2 linked regions of the Homo sapiens genome follow. The protein of the gene in region 1 purifies or fractionates together with the protein of each later gene. This does not show direct contact. Each region holds a gene or a part of one and is shown on either strand. Other genes may lie near its edges.

Region 1 (8,018 bases):
CTCCTCTTTGAGTTTCCTCTCTCTTGCTCTCACACATACACACATTCTTACATATATACAAAGACACACACACACACACAAATAGCAGTGCATATATTACATATGCTTCAAAAATATTCTTAAAGTTTCACCTACACAGCACCACATAATTTTAAACATAGCAACCAGACAGGATGAGTAAGAGTATCTAGAAGACTCATTTGAGCTTTTTAGAATGTACAATGAGTGATCTGGTGAACGAATAATCATTTCTTCAAAATCATCTAGATTCATTTACATTAAACTCTGAGCTCACAGCTAGTAGTCTTCTAATTGAAATGATACAAAACTCATGGCTTAAGTCTCATACACTATCTTCTTTCATGAGTTCAACAGTTAGAGACCTAGTAGGCTTTATTCTTCATTCTGAGGAGATTCCTGTCACTTTCAAATAATTATGCCATTTGCCAAATGAAAAATGTTTACCTGAAAAAGTGGATGACCTACCTCCAAGGTATTAGATAGCTTCTCTCTTATATTTTCAGCAAATTTACTCAGAAAAATCCACTACTTTAATGTTGCTATGTCCTTTTTTTTTTTTTTTACTTCTACCATAGAGGAAAAATGACTATGTATATCAACTTGGCTTTTTAAGATTCAGCTCAGCAATCCAAAAATAATTTATAATTCCAATTAGAGATCTTAAAGATAGGTCTCCAGAGGTTTTACTTCTTACCGAAAAATATTGTCAAAGGTAATTCCTTCTTAGATTCAGATCTTCTTGTGGATTCAGATACAAATGTCTATGGACATTACCATGTTGTCATGGTAATTATGAGCTTTGTACCTCTCAAAATGACTACAATCTGGAGTTAGAAAATTTTGTATACCTCATATATGTTATGAGAAATGAACTATTGTTACCACATGTTATGGCAGATCATTCAAAGCTATCTGTTGTATTATCACAGTTTAAAAAATATCCTGATACCACACATACTAAGTACATGTATACATAGATATTTACAACCATACATATACATATATTTATATATATACACACAGTGCACATACAATCACACTCATGCTTGTGGCATTTTAACTAGTATTTTTAAAACCTACCTACCTACTCAAATGGACATAAAATACACATACTTACAGAAACATACTTACTAGGTATATGCCATATACACAGAGACACATGCATAGAAAATGTGTTTGTACACAGAAAACATCAACATTTATCACATACTGGTATTAGGTCCCATTTCATATTTGAGAATTATGGCTACAGTCTATACTAAAAAGTCACAAAATTAATCTATGTGACCACTTTTTAAGTCTAAGTCGAGAAGGCTTACAGTTACATCACAGGAACTGGTTTCATTAATATACTTTAGAATAAAGTGAGTTTGTATTGGAACAAATAGGAAATTTGCTAATAAACAGACCCTACTGCTCGTCTATGTTATAAAACACGGCTAAAAGCAATATTCAGACGAGTAACCTTGGTAGATGTTTTTTAGAAATGCAATATACTTTTTCTAAATCAATACTATTTCAATAAGCTGTCCATAATTGAGTAAATGGTTATTCCAATTAGTCAATATGCATGCAATATTTAGCATGTGACAATAAAACTATATTTACCTATCAAATAAACATTTACAGTTTATTTTCCCAAATCCTAAAAACACTGATTTTTTAAATTATGCTAGACATGATAGAGCTACATCTATTGTGTTTACAATATCAGAGCAATCAGTTAAGAGAAAATTACACAAAAGATTAGAAATGGTATGGGAAACAGAAAATCATTAAGCTACATTCCCATCTTAAGGCCTGGTGTGCATGCTGCACGTCAAACTATGCACATACTAGAGTTTCAGACTTCATTCAACATTGGCATCTCCTTTTAGCAGAATACAAACCCTTTGGGAAATGAGATTCATACTAATAATATGACATAGTACTGCAGCAAATTAAAAATATTCTCCAATGTCACTGCTGAAATTCTAGAGTAGGCTGGGTTCTATGAGAAATAACTTAGGAGTAAAGAACAAAAATGTACCCACAAAGGTAGACAATTGGGGCAGTGCAACTGTGGGACTATAATCTAAAAGCAAGTGCCAAAGATGACAAATGCCATTGTTTATTACTGCCTAAGATCAGTGGAAGGAAAATTGGAAAAAAATCTCCAATTTTTTTTGACATGGTTTGTGCTGATCTAAGAACACACCAGTGGTTATTCACAATATTTTCCTTTAACAGAAGGAAAATTTTGAAATACAGCAAAACACAAAACCACATTTAGCACAAAGCCAAACCCTGAAGTATATAATCCGTTAGCTGCCTATTTTAGAGAATTCAAAGGAAGAAGCAAAGGGAATCCTAAAAACAAGAAGTTTTATAAAAAGATCTCACTGAAGATTATTTGTTTTACTATGGATGTTTGCTTAACAGTTTTCCATTTAGCTGAGACACTATTTTAAAAATGCAGTATGTATCTTGCACATTGGTTCCATTCACAAAGAGTTAACTTTTTTTCCCCCAGTTTGGGGTTTGGGGTGAGATACGAGAGGATTTAGGATTGTGATGTTTTTATACAATCACTGGTAACCTTAAAAGTTGAAATGACCTTTATGTAAATCTTGTATTTTCTGATTTTTACCAATTATAAATGGGTTAGCATAAGCCTTTAGAATAAGTTCAATACAATGGCACTCAACATGGCAAGTTCTCTGTTTAATAATGGTTAAAAGTTTTTACTTTATACTTTATGAGTATCTGCTCTGGGTGTAAACTACACAGGAAATTAAAGTTAAGTTAACATACAAATCATGTTTGCTACTTTCAAAGGGAGACATTTCAGTTGGTGAAACCTGATTTACTTCTGTAGAATATGAAATAGTGTCATGGGACACCCCTACTCAGTGAATACTTGCTCTGCTGTCTGGGAACAGTTAGCACACAAAATTCCAGTTGGCTTCTGGCTGTTTCCTACATGTGAATCATCTGGTCCTTGGTAGTCCAAAACTTAGCCTCAAGACTTAACTATTAACCCCCAGGCTAAACTGTTCTGGTAAATTTTAGAAATCTTAAGAAATTGCAAATTTGCTTTAGATTTCAACGTTTCAATACCCTTTTCTGGAGTGACCTGGATAGGGACTTTGAAATACTGCAACTGTAAAAGTGTGAGCTCTGCTCTTATCCCATGCCATTTCTACTGACTTCATTTCAGGAACCATTCTTTAAATGTGATTATCCCATAGCCTCAAGATTTATTAAGAAAGCCTAGAATGGATATACAGTTACACTGAGCCTGTTTCAAGGGTAGGATAAATTCTTACAAAACAAGATTACAAATTAGCACGTAAAGAGTGAATTTTTTTTCCAACCAAAATAATAATAGTAAAACTGGAGTTAGTATCAAAGTGTAGTTAGCTATGCCAAATAGAAAAGTAAACATTCTCCATGTCAGCCTTCAATATAACCTACCATGAGGTGAATATAAGTAAAGAAAGAAATTATATTTTTCCCAACACTTCTAGAGATGTGATATTTTGCTTCTTCCTTGAACTCTGAAACTAATTAGCCAAATTTATTGACTGATTAACAAAAAAAGAAGCTTTTATTCACTGTTGCATATGCTTCTAGCATGAAGCAAAACACATTGGAATGAGGAGAAGCTCTTTAGAGCAAACAGTGCAGACTTTTCCTTTGCAAACTACCTCGTGCTTCTGGAAAAGTTTATTCTTAAGGAGTCCTAATTTTAAAAAATCACTTCCTAGCAGTCTTATGAAATAAAAAGGAAGAAAAGAGGAGCTAAATAGGCAATTATGGAGTAGGTAGTAGCATTAATGGTAGACAACAGAATTACTGTCATCCTAAACAGAATGTGGGAAAAGAAATATGTATGGCTTAGGTCTAAGCCCACTATCTCATATCTGAAGAATTACGTTTAATGAGCTACCTGGTAGATAGCCTAGAAAACTTGTCCAAAGCAATTTCAAATATATGCCATGGTAGGCAAATGATCCCCAAAGTATAGGGCTGCTATACAAACCTACCTTGGTCAGTACAACATATAAAGCCTCTAAAAGGTTAGCAGTTTCTGAGTCAAACCCCAAAGGTTTGACATACCATGAGCAATGAAGATGAGCGATGAATGCATTAGTAAAACTGGTTACTTGCCTACTGATGTCCACACATGCGACTACTCATGATTTACTGCAACGGTTATCAAATATGTTGCTTTCGCATAATTCATTAGTGATTAATTGCCATGCCAGACACTTCGTTTAGTCTAACAGGGAGGATTCTAGTGGGCGGATTATAGTGGGACGAGTTGGTGATGGGGGTGGTCTCCGGCTAGAAAGAGAAAAAGAGAAAGGTAAAGAAACAAGTAGAATATCTAGCAGAACATTGTTCCAAGGACACTGAGAAAGAGCCATTACACACATGCTCATGCACATACAGGCCAGCAGAAGTGGTTATGATCTGTAATGATTTTAACATTGTCACCTTTCATTTATCTAGTAGTTTTAATGAAAATTACGTCTTTTTTCATATGCAAATCTTTCTCAAAACTGAAGTCATTCCTTCCAATACTAATAAGAAATATGAAACTATTTGAAAGCCATCTGAAACGTACTGCACATATCTTAGCCAATAGAATATAATAATTACATAGAATGAACTCAGGAACTAATAAGGTATACTGTTTCAGACAATGATGGCTTTTGAATTTTTATTTCTCACATATAATTTTCCTTTTTCTTTCAGGATATTATTATCACTTCTCATTGCCTTTTTGACTTTCTCCAATTTGTTCTATATTATGCTTGTAATTTACAGAGCACTAAAAATCAGAAAAGCAAGTCTTTAGAGTTCTCTGTAGCAAGTGTAAATAGGCTCAGTGTTGAGTGCCTGTTTAAATTGCAGGAGCTCTAGTTCCTATTTTGGGTCTTAAAGACTTTAGTATTGGTATTAGTAGTATTACTCACTTTCTAGTTGGTAATGATGTTTCTGGTAGCTGAGTTTACTAAGCAAACGTACTTTAGATAATGAAATATTACTGTATTTGAGAGTCTCAACATTACCAAGTAATATTATTTATTACTTATTTATTCCTCAAGCTTCTACATTTATTTCCTAAATATATTAATAAGTTTTTTTAGTGTATTTGTGTACTTGACTTCATATATGGTATCTTGGGTAGTCATTTTTTTACCCCCCCAAATTTGACAAAGTCTACAAATTGAAATGTTTCTTTTTGATAAAACTCTGCAACTGATTTTTTCAGAAAGACTCCTTCTGGAATTATAGTCATAAATTTTTCTTCTGTATTAGAAACTCTATATTGATCAAATTGAATGTCCTTTCTCAGGTATGAAGAAGTGAAGTTAGAAAAATTTAAGAAAACTATTATGAAAAATAGTTTTGAAAAATAGTTTTGAAAAAAATAGTTGTTGAAAAATCATGGAACTATAAAATTAAATTACACGATCAAGGAAAAATCAAAGCAGGAGAGATATTGTTGATTAATGGTGAAAATATTAACTATTTAGGCACAAACTCATAGATATTAGTAGAATTCCTTTTACCTCATGCACTTGAAAAATGTGTAAGAGGCTTCAAAGGAAATCTTTCTTTGGGGAGGTACAAAGCACTGGAATTACAGGTGTGAGCCATGGTACCCAGCCTTATTTTCATTTAAAATGGCCATATATGTTTAACTTATGTCCTGAATCTTGAATCTGCATAATTTTCTTCTTTGATAGGAAGTTTCTGAAGGGCGCAGGTCACACCCACTTAACTTGTTTCATACAGTGTTTAGCATGGTGTTACATGCAATTACATTCTCAATGTCATTTTGGTCATCTTCTGAGACTACTAACTAATCATTTAAGACTTACTTCAGTGAAGCCTTCCCTGACCTGCCTTCCCCTCTCCTGATACAGTTGTTTGTATAGCATCTCAACAAATCTCTATTATTAGTCATCACACTGAACTCTAATTAGGCTTATATGTTATCTTCACTGATGAGAAATGAGCTGTCTCTTAATCATCTTCATGTAACTGTGGTATCTAGCTCACTGCTTGTCATTCAGTCACTGAATGTTTGATAACTGAATGAATGAAAGTTCCTCCTAGAATCAAGAAATAACTAATGAATGCTTGTGATATTCATTGGTCTTATAAATACAAGGATATTTGTGAGTAAATCATGGCCATGGCAAAAAAAAAAAAGTAGCTAAAGTGACATGTAGGATTGAGATCCTTGGTGACTCTAAAGTATCTAACTGCTCAGTTCTTTAGTAGATATTTGGAATAAATACCAAATAATAAGCCCCCTGCCCTCAGGGAGTTTGTCAAATAATCATGTAACCTATGGAAATGTATTCTTAGCAATTAACCAGTTGGCTGGTGGGAGGAGAGAACTGGCCAGAATTTGAGCTTTAAGGAGGGAAATTCTACCAGAAGTTTTGATAATGGAATTAATTAGGTGATTTCATTAAATAAAAAGTTGATTTTAGACTACAAATTCAGTGAGAAGTAGGATACAGCATGGCATGATGGATTGGAAATCGTTTCATGAATATGTGATAGCTTGGATCAAGGCTTGTAGCCAAGAGAGAAAGGAATGAAACTGACTTCTCTTGATCCTTTTGTTCTTGGCTTAACTGTTATTCCTCAGTCCTTCTGGACCATCCCATAGTTTTCCTGACTTCCTCTGCCTTCCCCTATGACTTCATGTTTGTGTCTCTCGTAGCACGTAACCCTACTTGTGATTATGTATTTATTTACTAGATTATTACCAGTGTCCCCCAAATAGATTCAAAATTCCTTGAGAAAAGAAACCACATATTTTGCATTTATTATGTGTATTCAGCATTTGGTACAATGTGATTAGAAAGCAGTGGTTAAGTATTTGTTGAATAATGGACAAATGAAGAAATGACTGAAAAGTGCCTAAACAAGATATTTAGCCAGGCTAGAGTTTAGGCTAGATCAAGGTGAGTAGGTCTAGCGAGGCCAAGGATGCTACACTTTTAAGGCATTTATCAGAAGCTTATATTTGAGATACTATGTTTACATAGAAAGAGTCCTGGATCAGAAGTTAGAAAATGTGGATTCTAGCTCCAGTTGCCAAATTGTACAATCAGACTAGATGATCTATGTCAAGACTTCCAGTTATATATTGCATAGATTATTTATTGAGCATCTAATATGTGGACTGCTTCATGCTACATGACTTTAAAGAGCTCAGCATCTATTCAGAATGGAAGATGAGTGGAATAAAACAAATATGAAAGTAGCTTTATTATAGTACTTCATTTTAAGTGGAAAAGTGGGGCAAAATTTTGTAATTCGGAGTCTGAGAATACACTCTGGGAAGTCTGAAAATACAATAATGTGGTCAAAGTGATGGCAAACATGATTGTAACTGCTGCATATAAAACTTGGAAGTAGGAATGTAGGTCTATAATGAGTGAAATTGGAACTTAAATGATGGCGATTGAAGGGAAAAATTCAATGGTGTGGATAGAGAATAGAAAGACTTAAGTACTCTTATGGCACAGTAAATTCTCATTAATATCTGCTTTAATCCTTGGACCATGTGGCTGGGACAAGAGCACAATAGTAGCAGGCAATTGCAGAAAGAAGTCAAGACAGGAGATGAGGAGAACATATGGTTCTGCTATGTGCCAGGTCTATTGTTAGTCTTATTCACTACCATATCCCATAACTTAGCATGGCCTGTGGTTCATAGTATTGTATTTTTTTCCAAATAAATCAGTCAATCAGGATAACTTATTCATTATGAGCTCTTTAAGGATGTCCCTAGGGACATGCATTTAATAGGCACTGCATAGCTAGATGGTGAATTAATAATTAAAATAATAAAAGATAAAATGTTCATGTTCTCTCAAAGTAACTATGATATCTTGGAAATATGCCTAGTTGCAGTTAAAGGAACCCAAATATGTACTTAGTCATTAAAAATCCTAAAGAGCTCCTCACTAAACCTTGCA
Region 2 (8,018 bases), on another chromosome or scaffold:
GAAAGAGCCGTTAAACCAAGATGTTAACTTTTAGTTGTGTTCTTTATCCTCCCTGCTATGAAAGGCAGCTGTGGGAGGTGAAATAGAGTAGCTAAAATGTATTATTTCATTTTTAGATTTCTAGATCTTTTCTTCTGACTGAAGGACGTGACCACCAAGAATTGAACCAGCACTTGAGGGCAGGCACATAGGGCATTGTGTGAGGAGTCTGAAGGCATGGCTTTTGGTCCTTACTTGTTTATTCACTGAACACATTCTCACTGAGCACCTGTGTGTGCTGAGAGGGTGGGCACCTGTGTGTGCCGGGAGGAGGAACACCTGTATGTGCTTGTGGGGGGCACCTGTGTGTGCCGGGGTCGTGGTAGCACTTGTGTATGCTGTGGGTGCTGGGAGGGGGAACCAGTTTGAACAAAACAGACTAAGCCCTCGTGGAACAGACACATTCTAATTGGGTGGAAACAGACAAATATGTGAATGAATAGGTCAAAGGATCATAATGCTGTGGAGAACTTTAGAGTCAGGAAAGGGTAAGAGTGTGTGTGTGTGTATGTATATGTGTGGTAGGGGATTTACTTTTTATATAGAGGGGTCAAATAAAGCCTCTACTGAGATAACTTTTTTTTTTTTGGAGACAGAGTCTTGCTCTGTCACCCAGGCTGGAGTGCAGTGGCGTGATCACAGCTCACTGTAGCCTCAACCTCCTGGGCTCAAGTGATCCTCCCATCTCAGCCTCCCGAGTAAGCTGGGACTGCAGGCTTATATCACCACGCTGGGCCAATGTTTGTATTTTTAGTAGACGCGGGGTTTCACTATGTCGCTCAGGCTGGTCTGGAACTCCTGGCCTCAAGCGATCCACCCACCTTGGCCTCCCAAAGTGCTGGGATTACAGGCATGGGCCACCACACCTGGCCTAACTCATGGTGGGAGACTGGAAGGAAATGAGGAAGTGAGCAGGAGGCAGTGGGATGAGCATGTTCCAAACCCTGGTGCAGGAGCATGCTTGGCATGTTAGGGGTGGCAAGGTCATGGTGGCCAGTCAGTGTGGATGTGGGTTGGGGGGAGGTGGCAGCAGATGAGAGGGGGTGGGAGTGGGGAGGACACATCAGTGTAGGTCATTGTAAGGATTTTGGCCTTTACACTGAGTGAGGGGGAAGCCGTTGGAGAGCTTTGAACAGTGAAGTTGATGATGACTTATGTTTTAAAAGGATAACTGGCTGCTGGGTTGAGAATAGACAGGAAGAGGACAAGGGCTGAGTCAGGGAGACCTTTTCAAGCTAGAGCTGTGTGACTCACACCATAATTCTTCCCTGAGTCTTCGTTTCCTCATCTGTAAAATAACTGGGCCCTCTCTAGCTCAAGAATTTTAAGTTTTCAAGTAGTGCAGGGTATTATTTCTACAGGGAGGCAAGAGGATTGCGTGGGAAGAGGTTCTGAAAGTAAATCGCTTCAGATGACCTGAAAACTTGACACCAACCTGCCTGTAGCTGAATCATCCCAAATCAAGAGGTAATCAGGTCTTTTTCAGTCAGATTGTCAGGTCATGAGAACAAAAACACTGTTTCGTAAATATTCTCTGCTCATCCCTTTTGTACTTTGCTGATCCCTGAATTTTCCCTTCCTGATTGAAAAAGGATGAAAAGCTGTTACTCATCAACAGAACTGGCAACCAGAGTAGCTTTTGTTGTTTGGAAAATTGGGAACTTTGGGGAAGGAAACAATTCTGTGTTTATCGTAGGTCATAAGAGTTTTTCTTTTATAACACGCAAGGAATCTAAAAGATTGGTTTTGTTGTAGAATTCCCTTGTCCCATTCATCTCATGTCTCACAGGTGTTCATTCTTAATGCATTGCATGTGCTTCCTTTTGTTTATGTAGGAGCTTGCAAAGTGGGAATGTTTGTTTTATGTGTATGTATCTTGATTTATAATGCTGTAATTCATTTTCCTTTATGTAGTTTGGTTTTTTTTTTTTTTTTTTTTGGAGACTTTTGAGACAAGAGTCTCACTCTGTTGCCCAGGCTGGAGTACAGTGGCGAGATCTCGGCTCACTGCAGCCTCCGCCTCCCGGGTTCAAGCCATTTCCTGCCTCAGCCTCTTGAGTAGCTGGAATTACAGTCATGCGCCACCACGCCCAGCTAATTTTTTTGTATTTTAGTAGAGACGGGGTTTCACCATGTTGGCCAGGCTGGTCTCGAACTCCTGACCTCAGGTGATCCGCCTGCCTTGGCCTCCCAAAGTACTGGGATTACAGGTATGAACCACCATGCCAGGTCTCTGAGTAGTGTTTTTAAGATCCATCCATATTGTTATGTGTCTAATTCTCTGCTTTGGAATGCTGCATTTATACCCCATGCTGTTTGCATCCATTGGTTTTGCTTTATCTGCTCTCTGTGTAGTGAGTGGTTACTCAAGTTGTTCCTACCCCCTAACACCATAAATATTGCTGCAGTGAACATCTTCCTACATGTCTCCTTACAAAGCTGTATAATATTTCTGTGGAATTGCTGGATTATAGGCTTGCAGAGACTGAATTTGATTAAATAGTGCCAGATGCCTCTCCACAGTGGCTGCCCCAGTCTCTGTGCCTCTGGAAGTATTAATATTTGAGGACTCCTGTATCCTCATGTCCCACCAGCACTCGCCTCTTTCCAGCTATCCATGGTTTTCAATCTCGTAAGCACAAAGTGATATCTTGTCGTTTTAATTTATATTTCTTTGATGACTAGAGATTTTGAGTATCTCTTATACAGATAGCTTCCTCTGTAAATTGCTTATTCATGTCTTTGGCATTTTCTGTTGGAGTTGATATCTATTTTGTTGCTGTTGACTTGCAGAAATGATTTTATAATATAGGTATTTATTCCCTGTTATGTTTAGACTTTGCAGATGTCTTCTCATTTGGGCATCTTGACATCTGTTGATCAAATCTTCTCATTTAGTTCTCGTTTTGTCTTTGCCATCCTTTGATCAAGAAATATTTTTAATTTTGATGTAATCAAATAGATAAATTCTTTGACTTGCGGTTTATGTTTTTGGAGTTTTGTTTAAGGAACTCTTCCTGAACCCTAGGTCATGTCTGTGACTTTCATCTCTCTAGGGCCCGCATTTTCATGTGTTAGATAGGAATCCAGCCCTATTTTTCTCCATTTAATGACCCAGTTTTTCTAATAACATGTCAACAAAATCCATGCTTTCCTCTATGAAATTATGGTATCTCTTTCTCATTTGTGGTTTCCATGGATACACTTGTCTGGCCCTAAGCATTTATTTTGTTCCATTAGTCTGTCAGTTCTTACTTCATTTTTTTAATTGCTCTAATTTTATTACAGTGACTTTGTAGTATGTCCTAATGACTGGCACAGCAAGCCATTCATCTTAAAGTTTATTTAGCTCTTCCTGGACCAAAATTTATTTTTTCCATATAAAATTTGGAATAAGTTTACCAGGCTACCCAAACATTATATATACATATATATTTATATATATATATTTTTTCTTTTGAGACCTTGTGTCACTCTGTTACCCAGGCTGGAGTGCAGTGGCACCATCACGGCTCACTGCAGCCTCAACCTCCCAGGCTCAAGTGATCCTCCCATTCTAGCCTCCCAAGTAGCTGAGACCACAGGCATGTGCCACCATCCCTGGCTAATTTTTCTTTTTTTTTTTTGTAATTTTTTTAGAGATAGGGACGCCCTTTGTTGTCCAGGCCGGTCTTGAACTCCCGGGCTCCAGCAATCTTCCTGCCTTGGCCTCCCAAAGTGCTTGGATTACAGGCATGAGCCACTGTGCCTGGCCAAAAAATTATATTTTTGAGGAATTTTTATTGGAGTTTATTGAGTTTATAAATTATTTGAGGAGGGTTAACATCTTATTTTATTTATTTATTTATTTTTTATGTGCCATGTTGCTTTTTTATTTTTTATTTTTCTTTTTAAGACAGGGTCTCCCTCTGTTGCCCAGGCTGGAGTACAGTGGTGCGATGATAGCTCACTGCAGCCACCACACCCAGCTAAATATTTTTATAAGTTTTTTGTTGTTGTTGTTGTTGTTTTAATAGAGATGAGGTCTCACTCTGTTGCCCTGGCTGGGCCCTGGCCAGTAACTCCTGGCCTCAAATGGTCTTCCCACCTCAAAGTGTGCTGGGATTACAAGTGTGAGCCACTGAAATAGTAACTCATTCCATCCAAGAGCATATAATGTGTCTTTCCGTTTATTCAGCTCATTTTTCTGACATTTTTATAATTTTGGAAATAATTTAAAGCTAACAGAAGAGTGCTAAGAGTATGTTTTCTTTGTGTGCTTTTTCCCCTGACCCCTTTAATTGTAGACATCATGTCCCTTTAATCTCTAAATACATGCTTCATCAGTTCTTTTTGTTTGTTTGTTTGTTTTTCTTTTGGAATGGAGTCTCGCTCTGTCGCCCAGGCTGGAGTGCAGTGGCTCGATCTCTGCTCACTGTAACCTCCGCCTCCCAGGTTCAAGCAATTCTCCTGCCTCAGCCTCCTGAGTAGCTGGGGCTACCGGTGTGTGCCACCACGCCTGGCTAATTTTTTTGTATTTTTGGTAAAGATGGGGTTTTACCATGATAGCCAGGATGGTCTCAATGTGACCTTGTGATCCACGTGCCTTGGCCTCCCAAAGTGCTGGGATTACAGGCCTGAGCCACCGTGCCCAGCCCTTTCCCATTCTTATACTTCTTATTCATTTTTCTTTCCTTACAGCATTGGCCAGGACTACTAGAACTGTGTCAAAACAGCTGCTACACTAACGGGCATCTTTGTCTTGTTCTCAGTCTTAAAAAGAGTGAGTCTAAAGATTTCCTATTTCATATAATGTTTGTTTTAGGTTTTGTATGTTACCTTTATCAAGTTTTAAGGTATTACCCTCAATCCTAGTTTACTGAGAGTTTTCATCATAAATAGGTATTAAGCCTTACCAAGTACTTTTTCAGGATCTGTCCTTGAGGAAATAAGATGGCATCAGGAAGGCTGTATACCAAAATCCTAACCCTATGCTGACTTTGTTTCAAGCAGAAGATATTTATTAACCCTACATATATAATTTGTGGAAAGCATCTCAAGATTCCAATACAAGTTTATTTCACCATTAGGTCAGCTTTTTCCTCCTGGCATTACGAGTCAGAATTTAAATAGCTGATGTGAAAAATGAGAGAAAGAGCCATACTCAGGATGATAAGTTTTGTTGTCAGCATGATTGTAAATATAAGATATGTAAAATTATAGTTTCCTTACTCTGTGGATCGGTCTTTACTTCAGGCATAAATCTTACTAAATTATATCTCAAGAAATATTGAGGTGGCTCGTCAGTAGAGCCATAGATAGCTGTTTAGCAGCACTAACTGCTAGGGTGTTGGGCAGTGAATTCTCATGGCCAGCTCTTCTCTCTCTTTCTTTTTCTTTCTTTTTAGACTAGCCATTTTTTTTCCTAATTGTGAAATTATACCTCTTTATTACAGAGCATCTGTAAAATATAGAAAAGCGAATCTATAATCCTGCCTTTTAGCACCAACCCCTGCTAAAACGTTGGTTATTTCTCTGTCTCTGTTTTTTATTGGGGTGGGGGAGCATGTTGAGGAGGAGAGGGCACTTAACATTGCACTATATCATTTTCTATCACCCCTCCTTTTTCAGGGCTAGATCATTAACTCATGTTCATTTTGCTTTGATTGGCTCTCTGGGGAAAAATCGATAGAAAACTTACAATTAACTTGTAGCAGTGGGGTGATAGCTTGCTCCTCTCTTGGAACAGTTTATGCCTGAGGGAGCCTCCGTGCACAAACAGCCCAGAGTCATTGTCAGAACTTGGAGCAATCCTAGCCCTAAGCCCAACAGACCAAAAACTAGCTTAAGGGTGTGGAGGGGAGAAGTACTTTTGAGGTCTCTTTGCTTCAGTTCAGTCCTCCCAGGTTGTCACCTTCCTTATCTAGACCACACTTGCTTTAATCTTTCAGAAAATAAATAGAATGGAGAAAATAGTCATTTATTTTCTTTTGACTCTGAAAACCTAGCACAGGCCACGTACGGTGGCTCACACCTGTAATCCCGGCACTTTGGTAGGCCAAGGCGGGCGGATCACTTGAGCTCAGGAGTTCAAGACCAGCCTGGACAACATGGCCAAACCCCATCACTACCAAAAAATACAAAAACTAGCCGGGCATGGTGGCATGTGCCTGTAGTCCTAGCGACTCAGGATGCTGAGGTGGGAGAATTGCTTGAACCTGGGAGGTGGAGGTTGCAGTGAGTTGTGCTTGCACCACTGCACTCCAGCCTGGGCAACAGAGTGAGACCCTGTCTCAAAAAAAAAAAAAAAACAACAACAACAAAACCCCATCACAATTGTTTTGTTTCCCTAATCACTTTTTGCTAGTGTGGAAGTGACAGAATTCATAGGTGAACATCCCTATGGTGAGGAGATTCAATGTCTACCTGCCTTCCTTTCTCACTCTCTATCCTTTTTTTTTTTTTTTTTTTTTTTTTTTTTTTTTTTTTTTAATGAGACGGAGTCTTGCTCTGTCCTCCAGGCTGGAGTGCAGTGGTGCCATCTCGGCTCACTGCAACCTCCACCTCCTGGGTTCAAGCAATTCTCCTGCCTTAGCCTCCCGAGTAGCTGGGATTACAGGCACGCACCACCACACCTGGCTAATTTTTGTATTCTTTAGTAGAGATGGAGTTTCCCCATGTTGGCCAGGCTGGTCTTGAACTCCTCCCTCGTGATCTGCCCGCCTCGGCCTCCCAAAGTGCTGGGATTACAGGCGTGAGCCACCGTGCCCGGCTCTTTTTTCCCCCAGTGTCCTTTGGTGTTGAAACTGAAATTCCCCATTCCTGTACCCTGCTGGGTTTTTTTTTTTTTTTTTTTTTTTTTTTTGCCATAACAGGTGTCACTTTCTAAAACACAATGGTCTGCCTTCCCAATTCCTCAAGGAGAAAATTCTTCAAGGGCAGGAATCTTTGTTTTGTTCCCTGTTCATAACCCAAGCCCACCTCGAACAGTGCCTGGTACCTGATGTGCCCTCAACAGATGAATCTATAAGATGAATCAACCTGTAAAGAAGCCACACTGTGATCCAGAGAAGGGTCATCTAAGGGAGGGGTGAGAGAAGAAAGCTCTCTTAGCTTCCTTTCAATGCATAGGTTCAGCAGGCTAGTAGAATCCCCATTTTTGTCTTTGACATTGCAAATGAAACCATCCACCCAGACACAGAGAAATTAGCTCTCTGCATCTGTTCTAGCCCCTCCTGCGGAGGCTGCATTTTCCCGAAAGTAGCATGTGAATGTTTGTGTTGCTGACAAACACATGGACTGGGAGAGAATAATCAGCACTGACATTCTAGCTGTGGGTCTGGGCCCAGAGTGCATTCTGCATTGTTTTCATGAGGTGATTCTCTTAGGATAAATGAGCCTGCCCCATCAGCAGAAAATGTTGCAATGGATGTGCCGAGTTATGCTTACCTCCCCAGCCTCACACCCCAGGTCCTCCTGCTTTCTAGTTGGTTCTTTCCTCCCCTCCCCTGCAATGTGGAAACTTTTTAGCTTTTCTGTCATTTCCGAACAATAAGTATTCTGAACGGTAAGTATTCTAATCTGGTTCAGAATTGTTACGATGAACAGTTATGCCTTGCATACCTGGTCACTGTTTTCTAAAGCAAGTCTTCAAATTATATTAATAGCACTATATAAAATGCTAAAAAATTAAAAAGCTGCCACAAATACACCATAATGGTGTTCTTGAGGCCAGTGTCACACACCCAGTCTATCCTGTAGAGGCCATTGCTTGGCTCATATTCCTGAAATACCGCTTTTGTTTATTATTCTACTGCCTGACACTTACCAGTGCCTACCACCTCTCCCAGTAAATTTTAAACTCTGCTGCCTGCCTGGCCCTCAAGTCTGGCCCAAATCCACTTATATAAAGTAGTCCCTGCTTTTCCACAGGGTATACATTCCAAGACCTCCAGTAAATACGTGAAACTGTGGATAGCACCAACCCTACATATACTCTG

What was found. Proteins that work in one complex are often made in the same cells at the same time.
Region 2: the proteins of DNM3 (region 1) and DNMBP purify together in Homo sapiens (affinity purification with mass spectrometry; 4 studies listed by BioGRID and IntAct, with this or other methods). This does not show direct contact.

What each region holds. Positions count from the first base shown.
Region 1 is NC_000001.11:172,404,104-172,412,121, reverse strand, and holds part of DNM3 (dynamin-3), read right to left. Parts: exon of another isoform or gene 4,351-8,018; coding exon 4,281-4,350; 3' UTR 1-4,280. UniProt on the Homo sapiens protein: Microtubule-associated force-producing protein involved in producing microtubule bundles and able to bind and hydrolyze GTP. Most probably involved in vesicular trafficking processes, in particular endocytosis.
Region 2 is NC_000010.11:99,999,725-100,007,742, reverse strand, and holds part of DNMBP (dynamin-binding protein), read left to right. Parts: exon of another isoform or gene 1-1,506; intron 1,507-4,719; exon of another isoform or gene 4,720-4,801; intron 4,802-8,018. UniProt on the Homo sapiens protein: Plays a critical role as a guanine nucleotide exchange factor (GEF) for CDC42 in several intracellular processes associated with the actin and microtubule cytoskeleton.